2 separate regions of the Homo sapiens genome follow, and region 1 is linked to region 2. Evidence: fine-mapped expression QTL. A gene starts in region 2. The other region holds a variant in brackets. All regions are shown on one strand. Distances are between the middles of the regions.

Evidence for each region. PIP is the estimated chance that this variant, and not a neighbour inherited with it, causes the effect.
Region 1: its variant is fine-mapped to the expression of XPO6 in whole blood (TOPMed, PIP 0.90).

What each region holds. Positions count from the first base shown.
Region 1 is chr16:28,138,943-28,143,335 of GRCh38, reverse strand. All of the region lies in intron 9 of XPO6 (exportin 6), which reads left to right. Among named protein-coding and RNA genes, the nearest start is that of XPO6, 71 kb to the left of the region's middle. RefSeq lists an enhancer at 1,661-1,710. The variant C/T (reference allele first, on the strand shown) is at 1,956.
Region 2 is chr16:28,209,930-28,214,322 of GRCh38, reverse strand. It overlaps XPO6 (exportin 6), which reads left to right and starts at 2,358. Exons shown (of 24, transcript NM_015171.4): 1 at 2,358-2,957. The coding sequence starts at 2,955. RefSeq lists a silencer at 2,121-2,610 and an enhancer at 2,240-3,238.

The sequences.
Region 1 (4,393 bases), 71 kb after region 2:
CAGTGATGACAACAGCAATGATGAATAATAGAAGATGTTACTGCCTTTAGACTGTGGTTGTGACTGTAGCGTTAGGTGGCATGGCCCCTGGACAGTCTAAAGGCCTTTAGCCCACCTGCAGATGTTTACCTGCCTGCCCTGGCATCTGTTGTCTAATGTCACAGTTGTCAGTTGTTCTGGCTGACCACTTGAAACAGTGGGAATTTTTCTCATTGATCATGTGATTATCATCCTAAATGAGGCTTTTTAATTTTTCATGATTTATTCTTTTTTAAACATAACACTTTCATATAATGCCTTTATGCCTTTGAAAAATAAAACAACAGGCCAAGTGCCATTGCTCATTCTTGTAATCCCAGCACTTTGGGAGACTGAGGCAGGAGGATCACTTGAGGGCAGGAGTTTGAGACCAGCCCGGCCTACATAATGAGACCCTGTCTCTACAAAAACTTAAAAAACAAATTAGCCAGACATGGTAGTGTGCACGTGTAGTTCCAGCTCCTTGTGGGGACCAAGGTGGGAGGATCACTTGAGCCCAGGAGTTTGAGACCAGCCTGGGCAACATAGCAAGACTCTGTCTGTACAAAAAATACAAAAATTATCCAGGCATGGTGGTGCATGCCTGTAGTCCCGGCTACTCAGGAGGCTGAAGCAGGAGGACTGCTTAAGCCCAGGAGTTGGAGGCCACAGTGAGCTATGATCATGCCATTGCACTCCAGCCTGGGCGACAGAGCAAGACTCTGTCTCTAAAATAAAATAAAACAACAACAACAACAAAAACCCCTCCAAGCTCCTCTGGTTAGTGCTGTTAAATAGTAACCACCGTCTGGGGAACTGCATGTCCTGTCAGATACCCCTTAGTGGTCTAAGACAGTAGACTACAAAGAACATGTGTTAGTCCAGTGGGCTGCACAAAGAAAATATTTCAACTTCAGCTTATAATTTTTTCTGTAACCCTTAACATTCACCACTCCAGACTATGAGAGACTCTTAATATATCAGAGATATGCTGTTTTGCAGGAGCAGCTGCTGAAGAACACTGGCTTCTGGTGATGACCACATTTATGTTAACTAAGAGCATGCACATGTGATCAAATGTTTGTCAACTGATAAAATATACCAGAGAGAAGTTGGGATGTTCTGGAATCATATTTCAGAAGCAACTAATCTTGCAGGAAGTAGTCAAAAATGTTTTCTTGCTGTCTTAAATGGGAAATGTAGGTGTGGTTAAGTCACAAAGGCAGCACTCATTTCCTGTCCCCTGTGGTTTAAAGGTTTTGCATCATTCATCACAACAAAGTGGTAAGCATTGTAGGCTACAAATTTAGAAGCACAAATATACATAGATTTATTTTTGGTCCTAGGAGCTTGGAAATTGGAGCTCTGCATGCTCACTTGCCTGGTCAGGAGCGCAGTGGCGCGATCTTGGCTCGCTGCAAGCTCCGCCTCCTGGGTTTACACCATTCTCCTGCCTCAGCCTTCCGAGTAGCTGGGACTACAGGTGCCCGCCACCACGCCCGGCTAATTTTTTGTATTTTTATTAGAGACGGGGTTTCACCGTGTTAGCCAGGGTGGTCTCGATCTCCTGACCTCATGATCCACCCGCCTCGGCCTCCCAAAGTGCTGGGATTACAGGTGTGAGAGGAATTTCTTGATGAGAGACTGTGGGGACTTGAGAGAGCCTGAGCCCCAGTGTTAATGGGGTAAATGTTCTGTAGCCATTCCTGCAGAGTGGAATGGCCGATGGGGTAGATCATCCTGATCTGTATTTTGAGGTGGTGGCATGGAAAGGCCCGGATTTTCCTTTCCCTTTCCTTGTTTGTGCTTTTGGATGGTTGTGCCTTCCTCACAGATTGTTGAGAAAGTGGGATGAACTAATGAGCGTAAAGTGCCTTGGCTGACAGTAGGTGCTCAGCAAATAAGCATTGGTTCACCTCCCCTTTCTCTCTCACTTC[C/T]GGCTCTTTGTGCTTGTCAATGTGAAGGGAGTCACCTGTGTAGAAACTTATTTTTACAGGAAGGTGAAGAAACCTGAGTGTGTGAAGCAACCTAAAGTCATTGTGTCATGTTCTGTGAGCCTCTTTGTGACTAGACTTCTGGCAAGTGCTGGCCACAAACCAACGTAGGGATTCTGGTGACATTAGATAGGACTGTAAACAAATGTGAGTGAGGGTGAGAAAAACTGCTCCTTGCTTTTTGGAGTGGGTGAACCTGCTTAATAAAGAGGAAGTGCCACTGTTACACATGACATTGTGGTGCAATAAAGGTGTGAACTAGGTTTAGATCAGAGCTCTAGCAGCTTTCTAGTTCTTGCTCTTGACTGCCCCACAGGGCAAGTGAATAGAGTCTTAGTTGCTTTATTGAGTTGAAAAAGCTATCCAGGAATATGCTTCAATCCTTTGTATTTACCTGACTTGGAATTTTGTCTGTTTATCACCTGTGTGTTTTTCATTCATTTCTTTGTTCATTTGTTCTTTATTCATATATATTTTATTGAGCACCTACTATGTAGTTGCCTTAACATGTATAATTTTATTTAACTCTCAGAACTTGAGGCTTATAGGCTTATCTCTGTGGTGTATATAAGCATTTAATGCTGTAAATTTCCTTCTAAGCCCTGCTTTAGCTTTATCCCTCAAAAAAAATTTTTTTTTTTTTTTTTGAGACGGGGTCTCACTCTGTCACCAGGCTGGAGTGCAGTGGCGTGATCTTGGCTCACTGCAACCTCTGCTTCCCGGGTTCAAGCAATTCTCCTGCCCCAGCCTCCCGAGTAGCTGGGATTACAGGCACAAACCACCACACTCAGCTAATTTTTGTATTTTCAGTAGAGACAGGGTTTCACCATGTTGGTCAGGTTGGTCTCAATCTCATGACCTTGTGATCCGCCCGCCTTGGCCTCCCAAAGTGCTGGGATTACAGGCGTGAGCCACCACGCCCGGCTATCCTTCAAATTTTAATGTTACATTTTAATTTTCATTTGATTTAAAATATTTTCTAATTTCTTTGGAGATTTCCTGTTTAGTTTCCGAATATTTGGGGATTTTCCATATACCTTTTTGTTATTGTTTTCTAGTTTAATTTGTACATGTCTTTTTTTTTTTTTTTTTGAGATGGGGTCTTGCTCTGTCACCCAGGCTGGAGTGCAATGGTGTGATCTCGGCTCACTGCAACCTCCACCTCCCAGGTTCAAGCGATTCTCCTGCCTCAGCCTCCCAAGTAGCTGGGATTACAGGTGCCCGCCACCACGCCTGGCTAATTTTTGTATTTTTAGTAGAGACAGGGTTTTGCCACGTTGGCCAGGCTGGTCTGGAACTCCTGACCTCAGGTGATCCGCCTGCCTTGGCCTCCCAAAGTGCTGGGATTACAGGCGTGAGCCACTGCGCCCAGCCTGTACATGTTGTCTTTATCCTACTTATTCTATCAGTTACTGAGAGGGGGGTGAATTCTCCAAAAATAATTTTGGATTTGTCTGTCTCCTTTTAGTTTGATCAGTTTTTGCTTCATTTATTTTGAGACTCTGTTAGTTGCATACACATTTAGTTTTCTTTTCCAGTGTGTCTATTGAGTGTTGGACCACATTTCTTTATGTGGGTTTTTTTGGTGGTTGCTCTGGGTATTACAGTATATATACTTAACTTTTCAGAGTCACATTTTACCACAAGGGTGGTATGGAAACCTTACCACCATATAGATTAGAGTCCTTTAGCCTCTCTTCTTTATATTGAGGTTTTACATATACATACTTGGAAAACCCCACCAGACAGTGTTCTAATTTATACACGTACCCATCATTCATATTTTATAGCTCTTAAGAAGAAAGAAGTAGTCTATTAGATTTACCCAGACATTGCCATTTCTCTTGCTTTTCCTTCCTTCTTGAAGTTCCAGGTTTCTTTCTCATATTGTTTACCTTCTCTATTAGTTAGATTGGGCTACCATAACAAAATACCACAGGCTGGCCTTAAACAACAGAAATTTATTTTCTCTTAGTTTTGGAGTCTAGAAGTTCCACTTCAAGATGCTGGCAGATTCTGTTTCTGTGAGCTCTCTTGGTAGCTTGCAGATGGCGCCTTCTCTCTGAATGCTCACGTGGCCTTTCTTGTGTGCATGTGAGGAAAGGGAGGGAGAGAACCCTTGTGTCTCTTCATCTTCTCATAAGGGCAACAGTCCTATTGGATTAAGGCCCTACTCTTTGACCTCACATAACTTTATTACCTTTTTATAGGCCCTGTCTTCAAATACAGACACATTGAGGGTTAGGCTTCAATATATGAATGAGTACTTTTTGGGGGAAGAGTCGCACAATTCAGACCATAGAGGAACCTCATGGAGCATTGTTATTATAGCTGTTTTAGAGTCATCGATAATTCCAACACCTTTGTCATCTTGAGGTTGG
Region 2 (4,393 bases):
GAAACTCCCTCTCAAGAGAAAAAAAAATAGTGCTTGATGGCCTGGCGCGGTGGCTCATGCCTGTAATCTCAGCACTTTGGGAGGACGAGGCGGGTGGATCACCTGAGGTCGGGAGTTTGAGACCAGCCTGACCAACATGGTGAAACCCCGTCTCTACTGAAAATACAAAAAATTAGTTGGGTGCGGTGGTGGGCTCCTGTAATCCCAGCTACTTGGGAGGCTGAGGCAGGAGAATTGCTTGAACCCAGGAGGCGGACGTTGCGGTGAGCCGAGATCATGCCATTGCACTCCAGCCTGGGCAACAAGACCGAAACTCTGTCTCATTAAAAAAAAAAAAAAAGTGCTTGAGGCTGGGAGTTTGAGGCTGCAGTGAGCCATGATCATGTCACTGCAACAGAGTGAGACCCTTTCTCCAAAAACAAACAAACAAACAAACAAACAAAAAACTAAAAAACCCCTGAAAGCTATTGCTTTCAGTGGTAAAGTGTTGTATCAGTGGTTCTCCAAATGTGGTATCTAGACCTGCAGCATCAGCTTCATTTGGGAGCTTGTTAGAAATGCAAATTATTCAGCCCCATCTCAAACCTACTGGATGGGAAAGTCTATGAGTGGAGCGAGTAATCTTTGTTTTAACAGTCCTTCTGGGTGAATTGATTCAGATCACACTGAGGTTTGACAGGAAAGAAAAATAGCTCAGGGAAGTCTGAGTTATGTGAAGTATGCAAAATTTGTCAGGTCCACTGAGACTTGTGTATGGGAGTTCGGGCACACTCCCACCTCCACATGCTCGGGGACAATTGTTTAAAGATATTTTGTTCCAGACTAGCTGCCTCCCCCATTTCCTTCAGGTTCCTGAAATTTGTGATACAAAGAACAATGTATAGGCAATAGCTTATGTTATTTTTTCCCCCTTTCTCATCATTCCTATTCAACCTTATGTTATGCCTCTTTTTTCCTTAGAAACCCACTTGAAGCCAGGCGGGAGGGCTCACGCCTGTAATCCCAGCACTTTGGGAGGCCGAGGCTGGCGGATCACCTGAGGTCGGGAGTTCAAGACCAGCCTGGCCACTATGGTGAAACTCCGTTTCTACTAAAAATAAAAAAAATAGCCGGGCATCATGGTGGGTGCCTGTAGTCCCAGCTACTCGAGAGGCTGAGGCAGGATAATCGTTTGAACCCGGGAGGCGGAAGTTGCAGTGAGCTGAGATTGCACCATTGCACTCCAGCCTGGGCGACAAAGCGAGACTCCGTCTCAAACAACAACAACAACAAACTACACTCTAGTCTGGGCGACAGAGCAAGACCCTGTCTTAAAAACAAACAAACAAACAAGGAAACCCCATTTGTAACTGCCACTAATTGGACTATACTTCTGGTGGGCCATCTTCAAGCTTCGGGCTTGAATAAACCCTATACTTAAATACTATTTTCTCAATCTCGTTATTTAAGGTTGACAAGGGCCATTGGGTTACATAGATTTGCTCCAATCTATGTAGTAGGCACACCCGCGGGCTCAACCTCAGCTGTTTGGGATAGTTTCCTGACTGTTTCTTAAAATTAGCACTTTCAGCCTGGCTGGATGACTCATACCTGTAATCCCAGCACTTTGGAAGGCTGAGGCAGGAAAGCTGCTTGAGCCCAGGAGTTCCAGACCAGCCCAAGCATCAAAAGGAGGCCTCACCTCTGCAAAAAATAAAAAAATTTAGCTGGGCATGGTGGCGCACCAGGAGGTTGAGGCTGCAGTGAGCCATGATTGTGTTACCGCACTCCAGCCTGGGCAACAGAGCAAGAACCTGTCCCCAAAAATAAAACAAAATAAAGATGAGCACTTTCACGAGTAAAGTGGATTGGAGGATGGGAACAGGAATCCAACACATTCTCTGCCTCTCTCAGCACCTTGGCTATCGAAGTTACGTTTATCTCCCCTGTCCTAGCATCCACAGCAGGGCCTGGAATATAGTCGGGCAAGAGTGTGTGGACTGCATGAATGTAAGCTCCATAGGGCCGCGTGTCGTCACGCTGCCAGCTCGATGCTCCGCCCGTAAAAGGCACTCACTAAAATTTTAGCGGAATGAATGGGCGAAAAAAGCGAAAGGGAAACCACGCCTTTACTAAAATGGCAGCCCGGGCTCCCTTTACCAAGATGGCTGCCGGCCCGCGTGGACGCACGGGCGGTGGGCGCAGGGGGCGGGGCAAGAGAGGGCGTGGTAAGAAGGCGGGGCCAGTGGGAGCCGTCAGGTGCAGCCCCGCCCTCCGCCCTCCGCCCGCTCCCCCCGCTCGCCCCGCTCGATTCCGGATTGGTCCGGTTCCAGCGCCGCAGCCCGGCGGCCGCGCTGTGGGGCCGCCCGGCGCTCGCCACTTCCGGCGCGTTGGGGCTGTTGGTCGGGGGCGGCCGCGCGGTACTAGCGGGCGGCTCCAGGGCGGGCGCGCGCAAGGATGCTCTAGGGGGCGGCGGCAGTGGCCGTGTGGGTTGAGGCTGCGAGGACAGCGCGGGCCCCCGGGCCTCTCCCCTGAGCCGGCCGCCTGGGCCGCGCGGTCGAGGCCTGTCAGCCTCCGCCCGTTCAGCCTCGGGGCCGGGGCCGCCGCCACCTCTGCCCGCGGAGGCCGGGGAGCCCCTGCCTGGGCCCGCAGCCTCCCCCGCGGGGGTCGGGCCCGGGCGGGGGTCCCGAGCAGCTGCCCTCCTCGCCGGCATCCGAGCCTCATTTCCTGCTTTTTCAGTTTCCTTGGGGAGGGGCGGGTGGGTCTGGATGAATTGTCTCGGGGTCCCCCGATGAGGCGACCCGGGCGGCCCTGCCCTTTTTAGAGGGTCCCCTCGGGGCCCGGTGGGGAAGGGGTTGTCTTTGCATGGGTGGGGGACTTCCCGAGTCTGCCGGGACCATGACCTGAACTGTGCGAGCGGGACGTGTCCGAAGCCCAAGAACCAGCTCATCTGAGCCGCCCCCTCCCCGGCCAGCATGGTAAGTGGAATTGGAGCCCCCTTCCCTCCTGGGGTGCCCTACCGGAAGGGTGGGAATGGGCCCCGGGGCTGCTGAGCCATCGCTGCTCTCCCCATGGCGGGGAGAGGCGCGTGCGGAGCCTGGCCGGTGACACATGCGTGCAGAGTGTGCAGCCCCGGCCCTGCGCTCCCATCCCCCCAGGGATGATGGCTCAGGCCTGGGAGGGCCCTGGGAGCGCAGCAGGCACAACCCTTGCATCTGGTGTTTGCCTCCTGCAGCTCCTCCGGATAATAACTATCGTTTATTGAGGGCTTACTACTTGCCAAGGCCCTGCGCGAAGTGATTGACAGTGCAGTAGTATTTAATGATCACACCAGCCCTCTGTTCGGAAGTGGGGAGACTGAGGCACGGAGCAATTAATTCCCCAGCTCAAGGTCAAGCGACTTTTTAACAGTGTTAAGATTTGAACCTAGGCATCTGACTTTGAACCTAGGCATCTCTAATACACTTAGAGAGCTGGGTGATTGTAGGAGAAACATCTCATCTAGCTGTAGGTTTATATATGAGGAAACAGAGCGATTTACAGAGGTCACTTGCACAGGTGATGGCAAAGTCAGGAATGGTCGTGATCTTTTGACACTGAGGCTGCTATTCTACATGCTCTGATCTCTGCTGAAGCTACCTTCCACGTTTTCTAGACCGATACTTTCAATACTCCCCTAAATGTGTGTACTCACATCTCTTTGTGTATCCACATCTCCACGTTTTCTAGACCGATACTTTCAATACTCCCCTAAATGTGTGTACCCACATCTCTTTGTTAAGCATTTGCCTTTTTGCTCTTGTAATTATTTCTGAGCCTTATCTGTCTATTGCGGTATACACAGCTCCTTCAAAGACCAAATTGTTTGAACCCTTATCTGCTCCAGCTCCTGGCACATAGTAAGCCCTTGGTAAGTACTGGATCACCTAGCCTGTGGTTGAGCACCTCGAGGAGTGGAGCTGTTCTCCTCAGTTTCACCCATTTTACCCCTGCCAAGTTAGTGGTATAATAGAGAAAGGGACATAGCTGCATCTTTTGTGATACAGACCTTAAGGCCTGTGGAATTTTCGAAACATTCAAGGGGCCTGTGGGTAGTGTGTAGGTCCTGAGATATGGAGCTTACAACCAGCTGGGTAAAGTACACCATTAATGCTGAGCAGCACCGTACAGTATATGCTATACGTATAGTGTATGTGTTTTATTTTTATTTGTTTTGAGACAGGGTCTTGCTTTGTTTCCTAGGCTGGAGTGCAGTGGCACGTTCATGGCTCACTGCAGCCTCGACCTCCTGGGCTCAAGCAGTCCTCCCACCTTAGCCTCCCAAGTAGCTGGGGCTGCAGGCAAGTGCCACCATGCCTGGCTAATTTTTTGTGGAGATGAGGTCTCACCACGTTCCCCAGGCTGGTCTTGAACC